Linked DNA regions of Homo sapiens: regions 1 and 3 are each linked to region 2. Evidence: fine-mapped expression QTL. A gene starts in region 2. Each other region holds a variant in brackets. All regions are shown on one strand. Distances are between the middles of the regions.

What was found.
Region 1: its variant is fine-mapped to the expression of AHCY in prefrontal cortex (CommonMind, PIP 0.95).
Region 3: its variant is fine-mapped to the expression of AHCY in whole blood (TOPMed, PIP 0.97).

The regions. Positions count from the first base shown.
Region 1 is chr20:33,311,200-33,319,380 of GRCh38, forward strand. It overlaps the pseudogene BPIFB5P. Among named protein-coding and RNA genes, the nearest start is that of BPIFB1, 32 kb to the left of the region's middle. RefSeq lists enhancers at 471-971, 972-1,472. The variant C/A (reference allele first, on the strand shown) is at 3,091.
Region 2 is chr20:34,300,101-34,308,281 of GRCh38, forward strand. It overlaps AHCY (adenosylhomocysteinase), which reads right to left and starts at 3,255. Exons shown (of 10, transcript NM_000687.4): 1 at 3,143-3,255. The coding sequence starts at 3,170. RefSeq lists a silencer at 2,630-2,859 and enhancers at 3,430-3,479, 3,500-3,619.
Region 3 is chr20:34,119,967-34,128,147 of GRCh38, forward strand. It overlaps the pseudogene RPS2P1. Among named protein-coding and RNA genes, the nearest start is that of EIF2S2, 12 kb to the left of the region's middle. RefSeq lists a silencer at 4,728-4,797. The variant G/A (reference allele first, on the strand shown) is at 4,005.

The sequences.
Region 1 (8,181 bases), 990 kb before region 2:
AGGGATCCTTCTCCAAAACAGCCCGAGCCGTATATCCTCCGCGTCCCATCACCCACACCCTCTGGGGCTTCCTGGGGGTCAGCAGATACATAACCCTGGCTTCCTCACCCTTTGGGGGAGGGAACAACTCTAGGACACCTGCTGTAGACAGGCTCCCAGCTCACCAGCGGGACTGGGCCCCAGTTGTCCATGCTGATAACCAGCGTGCTGACACAGTTTTTTTTTTTGGTGGGGGGGGTGTGGTTTGGGGTTTGGTTTGGTTTTGTATTGTTTTGTTTTGTTTTGTTTTGTTTTTTGAGACAAGGTCTTGCTCTGTTGCCCAGGCTGGAGTGCAATGACACAATCTCAGTTTACTGCAGCCTCAAACTCCTAGATTCAAGTTATCCTCCTGCCTCAACATTCCAAGTAGCTTGAATTATAGATGTGCACCACCATGCCCGGCCCAATATGCTCTTTATAGGTTGCCTCACCTCCCCACCTCACTTCCACACTCCCCTACCAGTGTTCCCTGGGGTCATCTCCCAAATCAACTACCTGCACTCCAATCCTGTTCTCAGGGTCTGCTTCTGGTGAACCTCAATCAAGATAGCCATTTGCTCCAGGCAGGCACTATTCTAAGGATCTTCCAGACCTTTGGTCACGCCACCTTCCCCAGCGCCTGTGGCACAGGCTCCCCCCACACCTGCACCTGACAAATGAAGAAACCAAGGCTCTGACAACTCTGCACCACTCCCAAGCAGCCCCCAACTATTACCCCACACCACCTCCTTCTTCTCTCTGCTCCTTTATCGCCTACCCACTTGGGTTTCCACCTCCCCCAAAAAAAGAGAGGGGTTGTTCTCCTGTGCCAGCCTCCTGATTTGGGCCTTGAAACACAACCACCCTCCATGAACTGCTGAGGCTCCTCCAGGCTGGGAATTCCACGACTCCACTGCCTTGCTGGGCTGCGGGAGGAAAACTCCTCAATTTCCTGCTGTCTTAGCAGCAGCAGCAAAGAGAAAACACCAAGAGATCTCATTAAATCATCGTGCCTTGCAGGAATTAGTACTGTGTTTGTCTTACAGATGGGAGATGAAGTAACAAACAGCTGGTGATGTGATGGGGCTGGGGCGGGAACCCAGGCCTCACCCACTTTGCCCTGAGCCTCCCAGCTGAATCCACAGCAGGTTATAGATCCAATTTTCTTTCTTTCTTTATGTCTTTTTTTTTGAGACAGGGTCTCACTCTGTCGCCCAGGCTAGAGTACAGTGGTGCAATCTCTGCTCACTGCAACCTCCGCCTTCCCAGGCTCAAGCAATTCTCCTGCTTCAGCCTGCCGAGTAGCTGGGATTACAGGCATGCGCCATCATGCCCGGCTGATTTTTGTGTTATTAGTAGAGACGGGGTTTCGCCATGCTGGCCAGGCTGGTCTCGAACTCCTGACCTCAAGTGATCCACCCGCCTCGGCCTCCCAGAGTACTGGGATTACAGGCATGAGCCACCGCGCCGGGCCCCAGTTTTCTTTTTCTTCAAAATAACGGTAACAACCAGCAGCCTCTGCTCCCAGCACAGTGTTATCTACTTCCTGTGAGTTGAGCATTCCCCTTTTACAGATCAATAAACTGAGGCTCAGAGAGAGGCAGTAACAGTGTCTTGCCCATCTCCGTGTCCTGCCTAGGGCTTCCCTTTTGTGGAAGACACCCCCATGAAACCTCCCATCTCTCAGCAGAGATTAGTCAATGAGGTAAGCATATGGAGGCCGTGGGGCTCCGGTCTTTTTCATTTAGAGACCAGATTTGGGAAGGAAAGAAGACCTCAGTGGTTCCACTAACACCCTGCGCCTTCCTGGTGACTCAGGTGAGCAGTTAACCCAAGAGCTTTTCTCTGCCCTTGGCAGAAGGAAGACAGCCCTTCACAATAATATTGAGACCCAGTTTGCAGAAATGAAGGGGACCTATCAACTCTTAAATCATATTCTAACCCAAAAAATCTGAGATTCTAAAATAAGAATATCCCATCTAATCTATGCTGCCAAGTCATATTAGGTTGATGCAGCAACTTAATACTGACACTAGCCCTTTGCTTTTGAGGTTAGCCAAAACGAGAACTTCAGAGCTGCCATTGACCTTGTGCTTCCTGCACAGCTGCTGTCTTCTAGACCCCACCCTTCAGGTTGGGCACGGTGGCTCATGCCTGTAATCCCAGCACTTTGGGAGGCTGAGGCAGGCAGATCACGAGGCCAAGAGATCGAGACCAGCCTGGCCAACATGGAGAAACCCCGTCTCTAATAAAAATACAAAAATTAGCCAGACATGGTGGCACGCACCTGTAGTCCCAGCTACTCGGGAGGCTGAGGCAGGAGAATCACTTGAACCTGGGAGGCGGAGGTTGCAGTGAGCCGAGATCACGCCACTGAACTCTAGCCTGGGCAACAGAGAGAGACTCCATCTCAAAAAAAGAAAAAAAAAAAAGAACTTGCCCTTCCATTGTCAGCCTCTCTGCCCCAGGTCTCCAGCCAAAGAACACAGTTTAACACCTGCTCTGTCCATGCCTCTGAGTTGTGAAAGGGAAAGACATTAACCCCAGGAGGAAACCCTGTGAAAAATCCAAAATCCACCTAGAGAAGAGTCACACCTGCCATTGGGGTGCCCATACTAGACAGCAATTAATGAAGCCGTCAATGCTGACACAGCCAGCTGTGCACACTCGCAGTGGGGATGCCAGGATTCCCACATCAAAGGACCCTGGCACAGCAGTTTGGTTGGGAGCTAGGTCTCCGAGTCTTGGAGCTGCGTGGCATAGTGACACCAAATTTCTCTTTCACTGAGTGGTCAGACCCCTCTCTGGGCCCTGATTTCAAATCCCAGCTTTATCATGGACATGCTGTGTGACCCAGAGCAAGGTACTTAACGTCTCTGAGTCTCAGTTTTCTCATCCATAAAATGGAAGTTAAAAGAAATAACTTTTTGAACACTTCCTATATGCTAGGCCCTGTACTGAGTTGCCTTAACGAACCTTCACCATACCAAAAAGACATAAATGGATCTATCATTCCCATGTTACAGACACGAAAAGTGAGGCTCAGAAGAGAAAGCCACTTGCCCACAGTCA[C/A]ACAGCTCCTGATTGAAGGTGGCAGTTTGAGCCCAGGCCTGTCTGGCTGCAGAGACCATGCCATTGGTGACCACGTCATAGCAAAAACTGATGGCTTGGACAACCTAGACAGAAAGGGCATAGGTCCTGAGACTCGGCAGAGCTTGAAAGTAATTTTAAAATTAAAAAATTTTTTAAAAGACTATAGAGAATGGCTACCAGAAGGTGGACCCCAGAGCCCCCCTGCCTGGCCCTTGCCACCCACCTGCTCTCCTCCCTCTGCCTCACCCCCACACAATCACTCCCGTGGGTTCTATGACTGCCACATCCTGTACTAGGAGCCCCCGCAGGGCCCCTCCCGAGAGCTGGGGTCCCTACCAGGGCTCCACAGCTCCAAGGACGTTCCAAACGGAAATGACCCACTCTCAAAATCACAGGGCCCCACCCGCCTCCTCCCTAAAGCCTGTTGGTCCAGGACTCAGGGCCTGCCCCTCCAGCCTCAGTTTTGGCCAGAAGCCCCTTGCCACCCAGTGCCAAGAGGACCTCTCCCTCCACTGAAGAGCTCCTCTGAGCCGCAAGCCTGGCCAAGGGGCTGGACTTCCTGCCCGGGTACCCACCCGCCTGGGCTTCTGAGCTCAGGTTAAAAAAGTTGTCTTTCTGGGAAGCTGGAGACAGAGGCCAAGGAGAGATTCCAGATAACCCCATTCTTGGAGATGTAAGGCCAAGGAGGTCAACGGGGCATTTCTCAAATATTTCTTGAGCACCTATAAAAACGTTGTGAAGTGGCACACAGATTTTTAGCACCAGGCGAACCTGGGCCGGAATGCCGGCTCTGCCACTCACTACCTGTGTCACCTTGGGTAAGTTATCTCTCCATTCTGAGCCTCAGTTTCATCATCTGTATCTTGGGCCTGATATCAATGATCTGAGACCATTGGGGTGAGGACTCAATGATGCGATGAAGCTTGTGCAGCCCTCAGCATGGTGCCTGGCACATAGTATGGACTCCAGAAGTCAGGGTCGGTATGGCTGGCTCAACCCAGGAAGTGGAGAGGGTGGAAAGATGAGTGTGCTGTGCTGAGGGCAATGGGGGAAAGAGATCTGACTTGAGTGAACTGATAGAGAAAAGTGTTTGACACAGAGACTGACTAAGTGCTGGTTGGATGAATAGTGGATGCATTTGACATCAGCTTGGAAGAGCAAATGCCACAAGCACAAATTTCACAGCCCAATCAATACAAAGCAGTTTGTGTATGCAAACAAACACAAAACCATTCTCTTTCCGTTATCCGATTTGGTCACTGTTTTGAAATCCTGTGCCACCAAGTAGCAAAAAACTGGATACTCAAGGCAATGCCAGGACATTCTAAGGCACTCCAGCGTAGGCTTAGCCACTTCAGGGGTCTCCTCGCCTTGCTCAAGGGCAGCGTCTACCCTCTGGGTGGCTTCTTCATGGGCATGGCATGGAGGGCAATGGTAGCTCCTCTGTGGGCCCTGTTTATAGTGACATCTGCCCTAGAGATGTCTGCATTTTGGCTGGTCCCTGCCTTGCAGTTCCAGAAGCTTCGTTTCCTAGTGGAATGCTCCTGCCCACCCAGACAGCCCCTGCCTGCAGATTCTGGGGTCCCAGCTATGCCCTTTCAGACACGTGGCAGGGCTGAGGTTCTGCTGGTAGGAACTGGTGGTACAAATGCAGTGTTTGGAATATTTCTCTGCTAGCTGGTAAAGATCTGTAGCTTTAAGCCCCCCAGGTGCCTACCGCTACCACCTCTCTGACACCTCCCCCAGAACCTCTATCCCATAGCAAACTCAAGATCCAGAAGCCTCCAGTGTTAAAAGGAAGTGCTAGGCTATGAGGAATGACTCACACTTGTAATCGCGGCACTTTAGGAGGCCAACACAGGAGGATCGCTTGAGTCCAAGAGTTCGAGACCAAACTGGGCAACATGGCGAAATCTAGCCTCTGCTAAAAATACAAAAATTAGCTGTGCATAGTGGCATGCTCCTGTAGTCTCAGCTACTTGGAGGCTGAGGCAGGAGGATTCCTTGAGTCTGGGAAGTCGAGGCTGCAGTGAGCCAAGATTGTGCCACTACATTCCAGCCTGGGTGACAAGGCAAGACCCTGTCTCAAAAAAAAGGGGGAAGTAATACATCCTTTAACCTCTCACAATGTCATCCAACCATATTAACAGCTGTTGGGCACTCACTGCTTGCTAAGTGCTTTGCACATATTATGGAACATATTCCTCACAACGACCTAGAATTGTCCCCATTTTACAGATGAGAAAACTGAGGCATGAAGAGGTCCTGTGACTTGCTCAGGTCCCACCCTCAGGAAGTGGCAGGGCCCAGCTTTGAAGCCAGCCCACGCTCTGGAGAAGGGCACTCCAGGCCGAGGGATCCACAAGCACAAATGTACAGTGGCAGGAAGTGCAGGCTGTGTTCGAGGACTAGCGGATCTGGAGCTGGGGGCAGAGGCAAGGGAAGGAAAGCTGGAGAGATGGTCCTAGGAGAGGCAGAGCTGGGAGATACACAGTGACAGGGCCCCGGTGAGGACGTCAAGGCTCCCACCTCTGTGTCTGCAGGTCCTGGCCAAGAGAATGCTGCTGCTCTGGATGTCACTGCTTGCTGGACGCTGCTGCCCCAGGCCCAGGGGAAGGCCCAGCACCTACTCTGCCTTCAGAGGACAAGAATCAGTGGGAAACAGGTAAATGTTAAGGGGTGAGCGTCAGAGGCATGAACTCAGGAAAGGCCAGGGGTGGGAGACGGCACCACCTCCCTGCTCAATGCTTCTCCTGTACAGGCCTCCCCCTTGCCACAGAATTCACCTTACCTCACCCAGAGCTGATCCTGTCTCTCCCCTGCTCTAACACTTGCCATGGCTCCTCAGTGCCCTCAGGAGAACCTCTGAGCCCCTTATCCTGGCATTCAAGGCCCTGCATCTCCAGCCTCTTCCACTGCCTCCTTCCCTGACCACCCCCACAGACTTCACAGCTCCCTCCTGTGCTAGGCTGTTCCTCTGGCCTGAAATGCCTTTCTCTCCTGCTCAACCTGGTGCATCTGGGCCCATGCTTGAACGCAAAGTTCTAACCACCTCCTCTGGGAATTCCTCTCGATTTCCCCAGGCAGAAGGGATCTCTCCTTCCTCTGAGTTCCCACAGCCCTTTGGTGACGTCTCCTCTGCGGCCTTATCCAAGTGTGCTGCGCCTGCTGTCCCATCTGTCTGTAGGGCTGGCTGCCTCTGTCCCTAACTCCTGACTGAGCTGTTTGTCATCCATCCAGCCCCATCCCCGCTCGCCACGCTGCAGCCTCACTTATCTTTCTGTTTCCTACCACGCCAGGCTCACCAGCACCTCAGGGCCTTTGCACGTTCTGTTCCCTCTGCCACCATGGCTGTCCCCGAGATCAGCCTGCATGATGGATTCCTCCACCTCACTCAGGCCTCAGCTCAGAGGCCTCCTCCTCAGAGAGGCGCTTCCTTTTCACCCCATCAGAAACAGATCTTCACCCAGTCATGCTCCGACTCCACTGTATTTTTTCTTTTGCACAGATCACTCTGGAATATTGCCTTGCTTGCTGATCTGAGTGCTCGGCTTTTGTCTCTCTCCCTACCAGGAAGTAAACTCCATGAGGGCAGGAGCCACACTGCTTCTGTCCCTTGAGCCCAGGAGAGAGTAAGCACTCAGTAAGTGCTGGCTGCCAAATGACTGAGTGAATTTGGTGAAAGGTTGAATGAACAGTACAGCCCCACACTGAAGCGGGGCTTGCATCCTCGGACAGTTCAGACCTGTTCTCAGAGCACTACACCCTGGACTGCATGCTCAGCCTGCCTGTGACAGGGGCCAGGAGCAAAGGTGTTGCTGTCCTGGACCACCTGCCCTTTGTAGGCAAACGCCTCTCCAAGAAGAGCAGTGGGCTGGACCTGTCGCAGGTCGGTCGGGGAACTGCTTTCAGGGAAGAGCCTCCCCCTGCTGTGGGAGCTACTCAGGGCAGGTGGATAAGTGGAGGGCTAGGACTGCCTCTGGCCTTTCCTGGTACCCTGAGCAGCTGTGTTCTCAGCACGGTGTCTTTGGAGGTTCTCTATAGCCTGGAAAGTGCTAAGCAAGTCTACTTTTCTTGACCCTATGTCTCTCCAAGCTGCTTGAAATCTTCCTAGGAAGAAAGTAGGGTCTCAATCTGGGACCTCAGCCCGGCAGCCCTCCTGCTCCCTACACTCAGCCTACAACTGGGTTTTCTGCAAACCTACATAGGTTTTTGAAAAATATTTTTAATGAATTGCCAACATATAAAAATCAAGAAGATTTTAATCAAAATCTGGGTTTCCCAATTGTATTAGATTGTGAGGACTGCCATAACAAAGTACTATTAATACAAACTGAGCACCCTGGACAACAGAAACATATTGTCACAGGCACAGCGGCCGACATCAGTAATCCCAGCACTTTGGGAGGCCAAGATGGGCAGATCATTTGAACCTAGGAGTTCAAAACCAGCCTGGGCAACATGATAAAACCCCATCTCCACAAAAAATACAAAAATTAGCCAGGCATGGTGACGCGTGCCTGTAGTCCCAGCTACCCTGGAATCTGAGGTGTGAGGATCACCTGAGCCCTGGAGTTCAAGGCTGCAGCAATCCATGATTGTGACACTGCGACTCCAGCCTGGGCAACAGAGTAAGTCTCTGTCTCAAAACAAAACCTCCAGGTAAGGCAAGAGGGCTCGCACCTGTAATCCCAGCACTTCGGGAGGCCAAGGCGGGTGGATCACTTGAGATCAGGAGTTCGAGAACAGCCTAGTCAACATGGTAAAGACCAGTCTCTAATAAAAATACAAAAATCAGCCAGGTGTGGTGGCACGCACCTGTAATTCCAGCTGACTGGGAGGCTGAGGCAGGAGAATCACCTGAACCTGGGAGGCAGAGGTTGCAGTAAGCCAAGATCACACCACTGCACTCCAACCTGGGCAACAGACTGAGACTCCATCTCAAAAACAAACAAACAAACAAAACCCACCAGAGCCGGCACAGTGACACACATTTGTAGTCCCAGCTTCTCAGGAGGCTGGAGAGGAGGATCGCTTGAGCCCAGGAATTTGTAATGTGATTGCACCTGT
Region 2 (8,181 bases):
CTTGAACCTGGGAGGCGGAGGTGGCAGTGAGCTAAAATAGCACCACTGCACTCCAACCTGGGTGAGAGGGAGACTCTGTCTCCAAAAAAAACAATAAAGAAATAAATACACTGCCACTTCTCAGTTGGACACTGCCACACTCTCTTCACTGGTCCCATGCTCTAACATGCCATTCTCCCCACAGCAGCCAGAAGAGGGAGGCTCTTAAAAATTTAAGTTACATCACCTCCATCATTCTACTAAAGTAAACAAAACTAAACAAGCAAACCCTCCAATGGCTTCCCTCAATCTTCGGGCCCTATCTGCATGACTGCCTGCCCCTCCTCCATCTCTCCACTTTCCCCACTCACTAGCTGTTCAACACACAGGCTTCCTGACTGACTTCAGGCAAGCTCCACTCATTTCCACCTCAGGGCTTTAACCCAAGCAGTTCTCGGCCTGGAAGGCTCCTCTCAAGCACCTAATACAGTACCTGGCACACAGTAGGTGCTGAAAAAAACCTGGAAACAGGAAAGAACCTAGTATATCCCTGCTAGAGGAACCAAGAGTGCACCAGGGTGACTCAAATAGAGGCATAAGATGAGTTGGGACTTCAGTCCCAGTGAAGTGGGGAACCTACAGTTTTCAGGGGCCAGCATTCAGAGACCAGATTTGTCTTTTGAAAAGACCCCATTGGCTGCTGTGTGGATCTGCGGAGCAAGAGATCCAGGGAGACCTGCAAGGAGAGAGACCAGACTGGGGTGGTGACCGTGGAGACAGACAAGTGGCAGATCTGCTCACATAAAATGGAGACAATACTACTTTATCTGTATGCATGTCTGTGCCACCCCTGTCTCTGGGTCACCTTTGTGTCTCCAGCATGACCTGGCTCAGAGAAGGGGTCAGCAACTGTTTACCGACCATATCTGTCCTCAGAACTGAATGAAAGATCCATGAGAGGGGCTGGCACGTGACAAGGGTGGCAAAGAAAAACAACACAAATCTGAACCTAGTCTGAGTCCCAGCATTTACTAATGACCCAGAGAGGACCCAGAGAGGAGTTTGCTGCAGGTTCCATAGCCAATTAACCGCAGAACCAGAACTGGCAGCCAGGCAGGGCTAGAGCAGAGGCCCCTCTCAAGGCCCCTCCTGGGAGGGGCCCGGCTGTATGGGACAATGGGTTATGCCCTGTGCTGCTAAGCTCCACCCCTCCACCACCACATGTCCCTCCAGCTAAAAATAACTCCTTCAGTGCCCTCGAGGACACTGTGCCAGCCCCACAGTTTTCCCTGGGACCCTCAACTCCAAAGGCACAGGAGAGGCTAGATGCTGCAATCTCTGGAGCTAAGGACTTGCAAAAGTCACAGGAACACCTGTCCCCAGGACAAGCCAAGAGGAACAGCAAGAGCCCCTGTAAACATCAGTTTCTTCATCTGTAAAGTGTGGATAATCATCCCTAGCTTGCTATGCGCCTTAAGTAAAGATAATGCCATATGATCAAGATCTGGCATACAGCAGGGCCTCCTTCCTCCAGCCCCACCCAGCTAAGCTCCCCATCCCCAAATCCAGCTTTATCTCCACCCACACAACCCAATGGCCCCAATCCTGACCCACTAATCTCTCCACAGTATGACAAGCCCCCATTCCAGCTCTACTATTGATGTGACCTTCACATAACCTTTCTGGGTTCAGTTTCAGCATCCACACAATGGAGACAGTCTACTCTGGTAGCAACTTGATGAACTACTTCAACAGAATCTTTGCAAGTCACCTCCCAAGGGCCTCAGTTTCATGCTCTATATAACGGGATTACGTCCACCTCTATGAAGATTATTGTGTAAACACACGTAAATCACCAGATATACAGCAAGTGTTTCCATAAATGTGGATGGCATTCTCCAGACTTAATAGTGTCTTTTTTTGTTTGTTTTTTTTTTTTGAGACAGGGTCTTGCTCTGTTGCCCAGGTTGGAGCGTGGTGGTGCAATCTCGGCTCACTGCAACCTCCGTCTCCCCGGCTCAAACAGTCCTCCTGCCTCAGCCTCCCGAGTAGCTGGGAATGAAGGCGCCCGCCACCACGCCCAGCTAGTTTTTGTATTTTTGGTAGAGATAGCGTTTCACCACGTTGGCCAGGCTGGTCTCGAACTCTTGACCTCAAGTGATTCGCCCACCTCGGCCTCTCAAAGTGCTGGGACTACAGGGGTGAGCCACCACACCCGGTCCAATAGTGTCAAAGTTACTTGAAAAGCTACCAGCCAAACTGAACTGGTTTTTGCTGAAAATTCACTAGGATTGTTCCGCGTGTATTCGCTTGCACACAGTGGTGAAAGGGTGCGCTCAGAGATCTAGATGGCCTGCGTTCCAATCTTGCTCCATCACCACCAGCTGTAAGACTGAGGGCAAGTTACCTCTGCCTCAGGATTCTCATCATAAAATGAGAACAGTTTCCCTATAGAGCCATGAGACTAGAATAAAGCTAGAAGGCAGTGCCGATCCCACAGGAAACACTAAGTAAACGTTAACTATCCCTGTATTACACTTCAATCGGTGGGACAGCAGGATTTTTCAAACCACTCCAAATTTTCTTCGAGATTTCTGCAAGGCTGCCCCTGCTGGAGGGGTGGGGGACCCCACAGGTTGGGTAACTGGCCCAAAGTCCCAGGGGAGAGGAGGATCGGAGCCGGCCTGGGGCTCGCTTTCCAGGCCTCTCCTCATACACCCTCCGGGGTGCCCTCGCCGTCCCTGTAGGAGGCCCAGAGAGGGGTGGACGCTCGTCGGGGCCGCCCAGCTGGACAGGGTCCGGTCCAGGCCTAGGAGGCCGGGCGCAGGCCCCCCGAGCAGGGTCCGGCAGGTGCCAGCCGTCCCAGGCCGTGGCCAGGTGTGCTCTCCCGCGGAGCACGCCGCCAGTTTGCGGCTCGCAGACCGCGCGGCGGCCCCGGCGTCGCGGGGCATGCTGGGACTTGTAGTCCACGGCCACCCGGAACGGCCCGCTCATGGCCGCGCGAGAACTCCAACTTCCAGCTGGCTTCGCGCGGCCAGAAACGCGCCGAGGCTGCGATTCCAGGGGGTCCAGAGAGCCCCGAGTCGGCCCTGCAGCCCCCGCCACGAACAAGCCCCGGGCGGGTGCCGGGCGGCCGCAACCGGCTGCAGGTCCTGGGACTCACCGACTTTGTAGGGCAGTTTGTCAGACATGCTGGCGGCACTCGTGATGGAAACGGGCGAAGGGGGCTGGGCCTCAGTCTGGGAACAGGAACTGGGCGGGCAGCGCCGAGCAGGGATATGCGCGTGGCGCCGACGCCTTTAAATATCTTCCTCGCACTTGCATATTCATGACCCGCTGGGGCGGGGCCCAACGCGCAGGGCGGAGCCGGAGGGGATTTCGATCCCTGAAAAGAAGCCTCAGAATTTCACAAGGCGTGGCCCCAGGAGTCTCACTCACCGGTCCGGAAGGGAGCGCCGGGAGAGGCCTGAGAGCCAGCCGGGCCGTCCTCTCGCTGGTTCAGCCAGTTGATTCAGTGTCAAAACCCAGCGGAACTGAAATTCCGCCAGTTCACTTCCCTGTGCCTCAATTTCCTCATCTGTAAAATGGGCCAAATGACATCTGCCACACAGATTATTATAAGTAAAGTTGCAGGCCAGGCGCGGTGGCTCACACCTGTAATCCCAGCACTTTGGGAGGCCAAGGCGGGAGGATCGCTTGAGCCCAGGAGTTCAAGACCATCCTGGGCAACACAGTGAGACCTGAACTCTACAAAAAAAAATTAAAAATTAGCCGGGCGTGGTGGCGCGCGCTTGTGGTCCCAGCTACTTGGGACGCGGAGGCGGGAGGGAGGATCTTTTGAGCCTGGAGATCGAGGCTGCAGTGAGCTATCATCCCACCACAGCACTTGAGCCTGGGCGAAAGGGCAAGACCCTATCTCAAAAAAACCAAAACAAAGTTAAGTTGCCATTTGTCAGGTACCTACTGACATCCCAAACATTCGCCTTACTCCAAGTAACCAACACCCTGAATTTAAGTAAGTTTGCATACATTTCTTATACTTTTACTGCATCCGTATATCATTAAATAGTTCTGTGTTTAGCACCTTTATATATCAACCGTATTTACCCTTCTGCAACTTGCTTTTTTCTGTGAGCATTATATTTATGAGACTCATGCATATAGCTTGAGTATATTCATTTTTGCTGCTGTATAATTCAGTCATCCCAGGCATGGGAAGGGGAAATTGGTTTCAGGACCTCTGTGGACTCCAAAACCCTTCTATGTTCAAGTCCCTCATATAAAATGAGGCAGTATTGGCATATAACCTATGCACATTCCTCCGTACACTTTAATCATCTCTAGATTACTTATAACTAATATAATGTAAATGCTATGCAAATGGTTGTTTTGTAATTTGTATTATTTTTATAGTTATGTTTTTTTAATTGCTTTTTTTCCCCTGAATTTTTTTTTTTTTTTATGGAGTCTCACTCTGTCGCCCACACTGGAGTGCAGTGGCACCATCTAGGCTCGCTGCAACCTCCACCTCCCGGGTTCAAGCAATTCTCCTGCCTCAGCCTCCCGAGTGGCTTGGATTACAGGCACGCACCACCACACCTGGCTAATTTTGTTTTTTCTTTTTTTGAGATAGAGTTTGGCGCTTGTTGCCCAGGCTGGAGTGCAATGGCATGATCTTGGCTCACACCAACCTCTGCCTCCCGGATTCAAGCGATTCTCTTGCCTCAGCCTCCCGAGTAGCTGGGATTACAGGCATGAGCCACCACGCCTGGCTAATTTTGTATTTTTAGTAGAGACGGGGTTTCTCCATATTGGTCAGGCTAATCTCGAACTCCCGACCTCAGGTGATCCGCCAGCCTCTGCCTCCCAAAGTGCTGGGATTACTGGCGTGAGCCACCGTGCCCGGCCTCTACTCATTTTTTAACCTAAAAATGAGAAAAGAATTAAACTCTTCTGGCCGGGCGCGTGGCTCACGCCTGTAATCCCAGCACATTGGGAGGCCGAGGCGGGCGGATCACGGGGTCAGGAAATCGAGACCATCCTGGCTAACAGGGTAAAACCCCATCTCTACTAAAAATACAAAAAAAAAAAAAAATTAGCTGGGCGTGGTGTCGGGAGCCTGTAGTCCCAGCTACTCGCAAGGCTGAGGCAGGAGAATGGCGTGAACCCGGGAGGCCGAGCTTGCAGTGAGCCGAGATCGCACCACTGCACTCCGGCCTGGGCGACGGAGGGAGACTCTTGTCTCAAAAAATAAAAAATAAAAATAAGAATTAAGGTCTTCTATGACATAGTAAATGTATTGGTCTCACTTGATCTGTACATCTGACCTCTGTCTGAGAGTCATGAGGGCCGATGTCAAGCAGAGACTTCCTGAGGGAACGAGGGTCCACGCCTGGGAGGTGGGCAGCAGGGTCCTCACGCATCCCTTTCAGCATTCTGCAGTGCATTGCAGTGTGTAGTGAGTCGTGTCAGTCTAACTAAACGTAGGATCATGTTACTAGGTTGTCCTACGAGAACAGAAAAATGGCTTCAAAATATTCCTGCAAAGAAATGGCAAGTTCCAGATACTGTGAAAATTACCAGCACAGCAAACAAGTAGAAAAGGACACAGCTGACAGGTCTCTTTCTGGTATGAATGCTGGTCTTTGTCAGCCATGTTGTAAGGAATGTAATAAAATTTGAGAAAACAATGAAAAAGACACTTTGAAATATGAATTTACGGACCAGGCGCAGTGACTCACACCTGTAATCCCAGCACTTTGGAAGCCGGGGCGAGTGGATCACTTGGGGTCAGGAGTTCCAGACCAGCCTGGCCAACATAGTGAAACCCTGTATCTACTAAAAATACAAAAATTAGCCGGGCGTGATGGTGCACGTCTGTAAACTCAGCTACTCAGGAGGCTGAGGGACAAGAATTGTTTGAACCCAGGAGGCGGATGTTGCATTGAGCCAAGATTGCGCCACCGCACTCCAGCCTGGGTGACAGAACAAGACTGCCTCAAAAAAAAAAAAAAAAAAAGAAAAAAAAAGAAATGTGAATTTACATGCCCTCTCATTAATTAATGATGACTCTCATCCTCACTGTATATCGTGCTTTGAGATATCAGCTAATGAGATATTTGCTAATATTTGTACCGTTAAGTTCATATGAACAAAACTTTGGAGACTGCTGGTCTCAGGAGAAGGTCTAAGCACCTTAGTCTGGCCTTATGCAACCTCTCTAGCAGCAGAATGTTCTAGCCTATGGATATATTGCAATTGATATAGCCAATTTCCTATTATTTCAGCTTCTTTTTTTTTTTTTTTGAGAAAGAGTGTCTCTCTGTTGCCCAGGCTGGAGTGCAATGGTGTGATCTCGGCTCACTGCAACCTCTGTCTCCCAGGTTCAAAGTGATTCTCGTACCTTAGCCTCCCAAGTACCTGGGATTACAGGCACACGCTCCCACACCCGGATAATTTTTGTATTTTTAATAGAGACGGTGTTTCACCATGTTGGCCAGACTGGTCTTGAACTTCTGACATCAAGTGATCCTCCCGCCTTGGCCTTCCAAAGTGCTGGGATTACAGGTGTAAGCCACCACGCCCAGCCAGGTTCTTTTAATGGATGAACAGTTAAACAAATTGGTACAGCCATACCATGAAATAATACTCAGCAAAAGGAATAAACTTTGATAAATGCAGCAACCTGGATGAATCCTTAGAGAATTATGCTGAGTGACAAAAACCAATTCCAATATATTACATAGTATATTATTTCATTTCTATAATATTCTTGAAATGACCAAATTATAGAAATGAACCACAGATTAGTGGTTGCCAGGTATTAGGTAGGGGACGGGAGCAAGAGAGAGGTAAATGTGGCTGTAAAAGGGCAACATGAGGAAACTTTGTGGTGATGGAATGTTCTGGATCTTGCTTTATCATTGTCAGTATCCTAGTTGAGATGTTTTATTATGGTTTTGCAAGATGTCACCATTGGGAGAAAGCGAGCAAAGGGCATTGGGATTTCTCTGTGTTTTCTTTGTTTCTTTTTTCTTTTTCTTTTTTTTTTTTTTTGAGACAGGGTCTGCTATCTAGGCTCACAGCAACCTCCACCTCTCCCAGGCTCAAGCCATTCTCCTGCCTCAGCCTCCTGAGTAGCTGGGATTACAGGTGCATGTCGCTACCACCCGGCTAATATTTATATTTTTAGTAGAGATGGGCTTTCGCCATGTTGGCCAGGCTGGTCTTGAACCTCTGACCTCAAATGATCCACCTGCTTCAGCCTCCCAACATGCTGAGGTTTTTTTGTTTTTTGTTTTTTGTTTTTTTTGTCGGAGTTTCGCTCTTGTTGCCCAGGCTGGAATGCAATGGCAAAATCTTGGCTCACTGCAACCTCCTCCTCCCAAGTTCAAGCAATTCTCATGCCTCAGCCTCCTGAGCAGCTGGGATTACAGGCACATGCCACCGTGTCCAGCTAATTTTGTATTTTTAGTAGAGATGGGGTTTCTCCATGTTGGTCAGGCTGGTCTCGAACTCCTGACCTCGGGTGATCCGCCCGCCCTGGCTTCCCAAAGTATTGGGATTACAGGCGTGAGCCACCGTGCCCAGCCCCCTGTGTTTTCTTACAACTGCACATGAATCTACAATTATCTCAAAATAAAAGGTTTAATTACAAATGATAATGTTCATTGTTGGTGAGTGTATGGCAAAGTTTTGTCACCCATTAAATTAAAAAAATTTTTTAACTTTTATTTTAGTTCAGGGGTACCTGTGCCAGTTTGGTACATAGGTAAACTGGTGAGTTGGGGGTTTGGTGTACAGATTATTTCATCACCTGGGTACGAAGCACAGCACCTAAGTTTTTTTTTTTCTAAACCTCTCCCTTTTCTCACCCTCATCCCTCAAATAGGGCCCATGTCCATTGTTCCCTCTCTCTGTTGATGTGTTTTCATTATTTAGCTTCCACTTATAAGTGAGAACATGCTGTATTTGGTTTTCTGTTCCTGGGTTAGTTTGTTAAGGATAATGGCCTCCAGTTGCATCTATGTTCCTGCAAAGGACATGATCTTGTTCTTTTTTATGCATGCATAGTATTCCATGGTGTATATGTACCACGTTTTCTTTATCCAGTCTACCATTAATGGGAATTTAGGTTGACTCTATGTCTTTGCTATTGTGAATAGTACCTGTTAAATTTTAAAAGATTTGGCCAGGTGTGGT
Region 3 (8,181 bases), 180 kb before region 2:
CCTTATCCTCTCAAGTAGCTAGGACTACAGGCAAGTACCTCCACACCCAGCTAATTAAAAAAAAAAATTGTAGAGATGGGGGTCTCACTGTGTTGCCCCAGCTGGTCTCAAAGTCCTGGCCTCGAGTGATTCTCCCACCTCGGCCTCCCAGTGTGCTGGGATTACAGGCGTGAGCCATAAAAGCACCTGATAGTCTTCTTGAAAGATTAGCAGACTTTCAGTAAGAAGTAATTAAGTGTACCTTGTATACACTCAGCACCTTGGTCACTATTCATTGCCCATCTTTCTCCCTTGCTCTTAAGAGACTTATAACCCCAGTACCCAGCACAGTGCATAGCACCTATTAGGAGCTCAGTAAACATTTGTTGAGGCTGGGTGCAGTGGCTCATGTCTGTAATCCCAACACTTTGGGAGGCCACAGTAGGAGGATTGCTTGAGGCCAGTAGTTTGAGACCAGCCTGGACAGCATAGTGAGACCCTGTCTCTACAAAAAAGTAATTAAAAAAAAATTAGCCGGGCATGGTGGCATGTGCCAGTGGCCCCAACTAATCAAGAGGCTGAGGCAAGAGAATCTCTTGGGCTCAGGAGTTCGAGGCTGCAGTGAGTTATGATCACACCACTGCACTCCACCCTGGGTGACAGCAAGACCCTGTTCTCTTTTAAAAAATCAATTAAAAAAAAAAGAATATGAATGTTTTTTGATGATGTTATCCAAGGTTACTTAGTATCTTGCCATCTGTACAGAAGACTTCAAAACTCTTAAGAAAACCACAATGAGATACTACCTTACACCCAGTAGAATTGCTATTAATTAAAAAAAAAACCTCCAGAAAATGACACATATTATCAAGATGTGGAAAAACTGGAACGCTTGTGTATGTTGGCAGGACTGTAAAATGGTGCAGCCCTATGGAAAAGAGTATGGTGGTTCCTCAAACATTTTTAAACAGAATTACCATATAATCTAACAATTCAATTACTACGTATATTTAAAAAATAAAAATAAAAAAACAAAAAAAAAACCTGAAAGGGCTGGGCATGGTAGCTCACACCTGTAATCCCAGCACTTTGGGAGGCTGACGTGGGCGGATCACCTGAGGTCAGGAGTTTGAGACCAGCCATGGTCAACATGGTAAAACCCCATCTCTACTAAAAATACAAAAAATTAGCCAGACATGGTGGCCGGCGCCTGTAATCCCAGCTACTCAGGAGGCTGAGGCAGGAGAAACACTTGAGCCCAGGAGGCAGAGGTTGCAGTGAGCTGAGATCGTGCCATCACACTCCAGCCTGGGCAACAAGAGCGAAGCTCTGTCTCAGAAAAAAAAAAAAAACAAAACAAAACTGAAAGCAGTGTCTCAAAGAGATATTTTTATGTCCATGTTCACAACAGCATTATTCATACCTGAGAAGCACCCCGGGTGTCCATCAGTGGATGAATGGGTAATCAAAATATGGTGTGTACATACAATAGAATATCATTCAGCCTTAAAAAGGAAGGAAATTCTGATACATGCCACAATATGGATGAACCTCAAGAACATTATGCTTAGTGAAATAAGCTAGCCACAAAAAGACGAATACTGTGTTATCCCATTTATTTGAGGTACCTAGAATAGTCAAATTCATAGAAAGAGAAAGTAGAATGGCGGTTGCTAGGGGCTAGGGAGAGAGGGGGGAAGAGAGAGTTGTTGTCTAATAGGTACAGAGTTCCAGTTTTGCAAGATGGAAAGAGTTCTGGAAATTGGTTGTACAGCAATGTGAATATACTTAAAAATAGTTGAAAAGATAAATTTTATGGTATTTGTATTTTACCATATTTTTTAAAAAGAGAGCACTAAACTGGGAGACAAAAGACCAAGGTTGGAGTTCTTGGTTGTTTTCCACAGATAGATCAGTCTCAAGGAATTTGAGACTTCCTTGAAACTCAAGGAAGTACTCAAGGAAGTTGAGTAAAGGAAGCTTCTTTACTCATTGTTTCTGTTAATTCATCTTTAAACAGGATAAAAAAGACTGTGGAGTCTAGATTTGTATGAGGATCAAATAAAAACCAAAAAAAACAAACGTTTAAAATAATTTTTTGAGTTGTAGTTGTTCTCAATATTCCAGAGCCTCTGATCTCTTGATATTTGTTACAAGTTTCACATCTTATTTCATAATGAAATGCTAAAGATGCCTCAGCAATAGCCAGTTGACTTCAAAGGTCTTGTATGAGGAATCCTTTTAATTTGGGCTATTCACCTTATAATTTGGTCCTGGGAAAACAGCAAATAAATAAACTTTTATGAGGACTATTTATGATCTAAGATGCTAATTATCAATGTAGTTTAGCATGAACTAATGAAATACAAGCTCAGGATTTTCATGTTAGTATAAAAAAGCTCTTCTTCAACAAATCCCCAAATGGCGGATGACGCCTGTGCAGGGGGCGGCAGGGCGTGGGGTGCGGAGGTCGGGTGGAGGCCGGGCGGAGGCCGGGCGGAGGCCCCCGCAAGCCCTGGGAGGGATGGGGAACCGCGGTGGCTTCCGCGGAGGTTTCGGCGGTGGCATCCGGGGCCAGGGTCATGGCCGTGGACTGGGCCGGAGCCGAGGCCATGGAGCTCGCAGAGGCAAGGCCGAGGATAAGGAGTAGATGCCCGTCACCAAGCTGGGCCACCTGGTCAAGGACATGAAGATCAAGTACCTGGAGGATGTCTCTTCTCCCTGCCCATCAAGGAATCTGAGACCATTGACTTTTTTCTGGGGTCCTCTCTCAAGGAAGAGGGTTTGAAGATTATGCCGGTGCAGAAGCAGACCCGCGCGGGCCAGCGCACCAGGTTCAAGGCGTTTGTTGCCACCGGGGACTACAATGGCCACGTCGGTCTGTGCGTTAAGTGCTCCAAGGAGGTGGCTACTGCCATCCGCGGGTCCGTCATCCTGACCAAGCACTCCATTGTCCCCGTGCGCAGAGGCTACGGGGGAACAAGATGGACAAGCCCACACCGTCCCTTGCAAGGTGACAGGCCGCTGCGGCTCTGTGCTGGTGCACCTCATCCCTGCACCCAGGGGCACTGGCATCGTCTCCGCACCTGTGCCCAAGAAGCTCCTCATGATGGCTGGTATTGATGACTGCCACACCTCAGCCAGGGGCTGCACTGCCACCCTGGCAACTTCGCCAAGGCCACCTTTGACACCATCTCTAAGACCTACAGCTACCTGACCCTCGACCTCTGGAAGGAGACTATATTCACCAAGTCTCCCTATCAGGAATTCACTGACCACCTCGTCAAGACCCACACCAGAGTCTCCATGCAGAGGACCCAGGCTCCAGCTGTGGCTACAGCATAGGGTTTTTATACAAGAAAAACAAACTGAATTAAGCCTGAAAAAAAAAAAAAAAGCTGGTCTCAAATTAGGGGCCAACATGGAAGAATTAATATCTGTTGAGTACTTACTAAGTGTCAGGCCCTATAGATGTTACATGCATTATCTCATTTAATACTCAACAACAGCCTTGTCAGGTTAAAAGTATTATACCCATTTTATAAACAGGTTAATGAAGGCTCAGAGAGTGTCAGTCACTTACCCAACATAACCCAGTGAGTAACAGAGATGGAATTTGAGCCCAAGTCTGTGTGAATCTGAAGCCCATATTATTTCTACTATGTTACAGTGCCTCTGAAAATATATTTAACTGTGCCTACTTCTAATAGAGTTTATGATAAATGATATATATTTGATGTTTATATATTTATATCAATTATTTTACTTCATCATTACAAGTAAGATAGACTATCTAGGGATGATTATCACCACTTTACAGATGAGGAAACAGATGGTCAGAAAATTTAACTTACCTAGCTTCAGACCAGTAAATGATAATAACAGGGCTTGGACACATGTACCGCAACTCTCAGACTCCTACTTTTTCCACATTGGCCTATGAGAGTAGAATTTTATCTATATTTTACCTATGAATTTTCTTTTTTTTTTTTTTTTTTTTTTTGGAGACGGAGTCTTACTCTGTC[G/A]CCCAGGCTGGAGTGCAGTGGTGCAATCTTGACTCACTGCAACCTCTGTCCCCCAGCTTCAAGCGATTCTTCTGCCTCAGCCTCCCAAGTAGCTGGGAGGGATTACAGTCGCCTGCCACTGTGCCTGGCTAATTTTTGTATTTTTAGTAGAAATGGGGTTATATCATCTTGGCCAGGCTGATCTTGAACTCCTGACCTCATGATCTACTCGCCTTGGCCTCCCAAAGTGCTGGATTACAGGCGTGAGCCACCTCGCCCAGCCATATCTATGAATTTTCTGGTTCTAACTTTTTTTAATAGGAGCAAAGAGTGGACATCTTGACAGTCTTGCACTTCTGTTTATGCTTGGACAGATTAAACACATATGTTTATCCCTGTTCACTCCCCAAATCACTGAAGTGACAGTGAGTTAACATTTTTAGGTTTACCAGTCTACAGACAAAGAGAATAAGAAAGAAATCAATAGCAGATTAAGGATATCAACAAATTTTTGGAAGATGGAAAACCATAGCTGAGCTGAGAAAACAATTCTAAATGTTTGCTGAGGGTTATACTAACAAGGGACAAACAGATTCGTACTGCAGAACACTAGAATGTCAGGACTGGGACAGAGCAGATCAGAGGTGATGTGAGAGGCAGAAGAGAGAGGGTTTGGCTGAAAGCCTTTATAGGAAGTGAAACTGCCAGGTCTTTTTCTCCATCCTACTCACTTAGACAACTACCCTTTCATCTCCCTAGCAGCCCCTGGGACAAAATTGAGGTAGAGAAGTTCCAGACACTGAGATACCAGGCACAGCTAAAGATATAATAGCAGGGAGGCTAAGGTAGGAGGATTTCAGACTGAAAACAGAGATTAGATGAATTGTCTACATGCTGAATGGTGAAGCGCACTCAGTCCTCCTGCTGAAATTTATTCCAGGAATGCTGACAGCAAGGCTTGTATTCTCCAGGCAAGATATCAGGGAATTAATTTTAATTAATTAACCCCAGAGGAAAGATCTATACATACTGATATTTGAGGTCCCCCAACAAAACACCTAGGTACCCACTTTATCATCCTACAGATAAACTTCCTGTTAACACAGAGCTTCCAAATACTTAGTGACTCACTCTTAAATATGAAGAGACAACAAAGGGTCACCAGATATTTAAGATAAACCTCCACCAGGAAAGACAGCATCAAATAGAGAAAAAAGAAACTCAAAGGGAACAGAAACTGAAGAGAACAGAAAAATATTTTTAAAAAACAATAAGCAGTCTATGAGAGATAATAGAAAATACTGCATCCATAAAGCAAAGATAAAATGCTCTAAAAAAAATAGAGTAAGTAACAGCTCTGGGGAATTAAAAATATAATAGAAAAATTGGCTGGGCATTATGGCTCATGCCTGTAATCCCAGCACTTTGAGAAGCCAAGGTAGAAGGATTGTTTAAAGCCAGGAGTTCAAGACCAACCAGGGCAATATTAGATAGACCTCTTCTCTGCTAAACATTCTTTTAAAAAGAGAAATTAGGCTTGGTTCAGTGGCTCACGCCTGTAATCCCAGCACTTTGGGAGGCCGAGGCGGGCGGATCACGAGGTCAGGAGATCGAGACCATCCTGGCTAACATGGTGAAACCCCATCTGTACTAAAAATACAAAAAATTAGCCGGGCATGATGGCGAACACGTGTAGTCCCAGCTACTAGGGAGGCTGAGGCGGAAGAATGACATGAACCCAGGAGGCAGAGCTTGCAGTGAGCCGAGATCACACTACTGCACTCCAGCCTGGGCAACAGAGCGAGACTCCATCTCAAAAAAATAATAAATAAATAAATAAATAAATAAATAATAAAAAAAGAAAAAAAATTAGCCAGCTGTGGTGGCTCATGCATGTGGTCCCAGCTACTTAGGAGGCTGAGTCAGGAGGGCTGCTCAAGCCCAGGAGATGGAGGCTGCAGTGAGCTATGATCATGCCACTGCACTCCAGCCTGGGCAATACAGCAAGACCTGTTCTCAAATAATAATAATAGAAAAATAAATAATTTATATAAGTCTTAATATATAAAGTTGAGGAAATCTCTCAGAAAGTAGAACAGAAATACAAATGGAAAAATAAAAGAGAAAAGATAATTAGAGGATGAATCCATAAGGTCGACCATTAGATTAACAGGAGTTCTGGAAATACAGAAGAAATGGAAGAAAATTATCAAAGAAACTGAGTTTCCAGAGTGGCAGAGCCTGCTGAGTGCCCAGCATAATGAAAGAAAACAAAACAAAGGAAAAACATTATGGCACATCATCATGAAATTTTTTAACACAAAGGATAAAGAGAAAATCAAAAATCTTGGTGATAGGAGGTGAGGAGGGGGCAGGGAAAGGGCAACAGGTTACTTATGAAAGAGCAGGTAATAGGAATAGCATTTTTGTCCATAGTAACATTAGTGGCTAGAAGACGATATAGGGAGGCTTTCAAAATTCTGAGAGAAAATACGTTTTCAATCTAGAACTCCTATACTAAGCCATATTATCAGTCAAGTATGAGGAATAAATAAGTATATTTTTAGGCATGCAAGGATCAGAAATTTACCCCTCATCCCCACATAACTTTTCTTAGGAAAGCACTGGAGGATTTGCTCTAGTAAAACAAGAAAGACAGAAAAAAAATCCTAAAATTTGTATGGAACAAAAAGTCCAAATAGTCAAAGCAATCCTAAGCAAAAAGAACAAAGCTAGAGGCATCACACCACCTGAATTTAAAATATACTGCAAGGCTCTAATAACCAAAACAGCATGGTATTGATATAAAAACACAGACCAAGGGAACAAAAAGAGAACCCAGAAATAAATCCACGTACAGCCAATTGATTTTTGACAAAGGTACCAAGCACATACATTGGGGAAAAATGTTGTTGGGAAAACTGGATATCCATATCCAGAAGAATGAAACTAAACTCCTGTCTCTCACCATACGCAAAAAATCAACTCAAAATGTATAGGGAAAAGAAAGAGCGATCAGACTGTTACTGTGTCTATCTAGAAAAAGTAAGACAAAAGAAACTCCATTTTGATCTGTACTAAGAAAAATTGTTCTGCTTTGAGATGCTGTTAATCTGTAACTCTTGTCCCAACCCTGTGCTCACAAAAACATGTGCTGTATTGACTCAAGTTTTAAGGGATTTAGGGCTGTGCAGGATGTGCTTTGTTAAAAATGTTTTTGCAGCCAGGCGCAGTGGCTCATGCCTGTAATCCCAGCACTTTGGGAGGCCGAGGCGGGCAGATCATGAGGTCAGGAGATCGAGATCATCTTGGCTAATATGGTGAAACCCTGTCTGTACTAAAAATACAAAAGATTAGCCAGGCGTGGTGGCGGGCCCCTGTAGTCCCAGCTACTCGGGAGGCTGAGGCAGGAGAATGGCATGAACCTGGGAGGCGGAGCTTGCAGTTAGCCGAGATTGAGCCACTGCACTCCAGCCTGGGTGACAGAGCAAGACTCCGTCTCAAAAAAAAAAAAAAAAAAAAAATCACACCTGTAATCCCAGCACTTTGGGAGGCTGAGGCGGGCAGATCACGAGGTCTGGAGATCAAGACCATCCTGGCTAACACGGTGAAATCCCGTCTCTACTAAAAATACAACAAATTAGCTGGGCGTGGTGGTAGGCGCCTGTAGTCCCAGCTACTCGGGAGGCTGAGGCAGGAGAATGGCATGAACCCAGGAGGCAGAGCTTGCAGTGAGCCGAGATCGTGCCACTGCACTCCAGCCTGGGCGACAGCGCAACACTCCTTCTCAAAAAAAAAAAAAAATGTGTTTGCAGGCAGTATGCTTTGTGAAAGTCATCGCCATTCTCCATTCTCTATTAATCAGGGACACAATGCACTGTGGAAGGCCGCAGGGACCCCTGCCCAAGAAAGCCTGGGTATTGTCCAGGTTTCCCCGGACTGAGACAGCCTGAGATATGGCCTCGTGGGGAGGGAAAGACCTTACAGCCCCCCAGCCCGACACCCGTAAAGGGTCTGTGCTAAGGAGATTAGTGAAATAGGAAGGCCTCTATGCGGTAGAGATAAGAGTGTGGCATCTGTCTCCTGCACGTCCCTGGGAATGGAATGTCTCGGTGTAAAACCCGACCATACATTCTATTTACTGAGATAGGAGAAAACCTCCTTATGGCTGGAGATGAGACATCATGGCGGCAATACT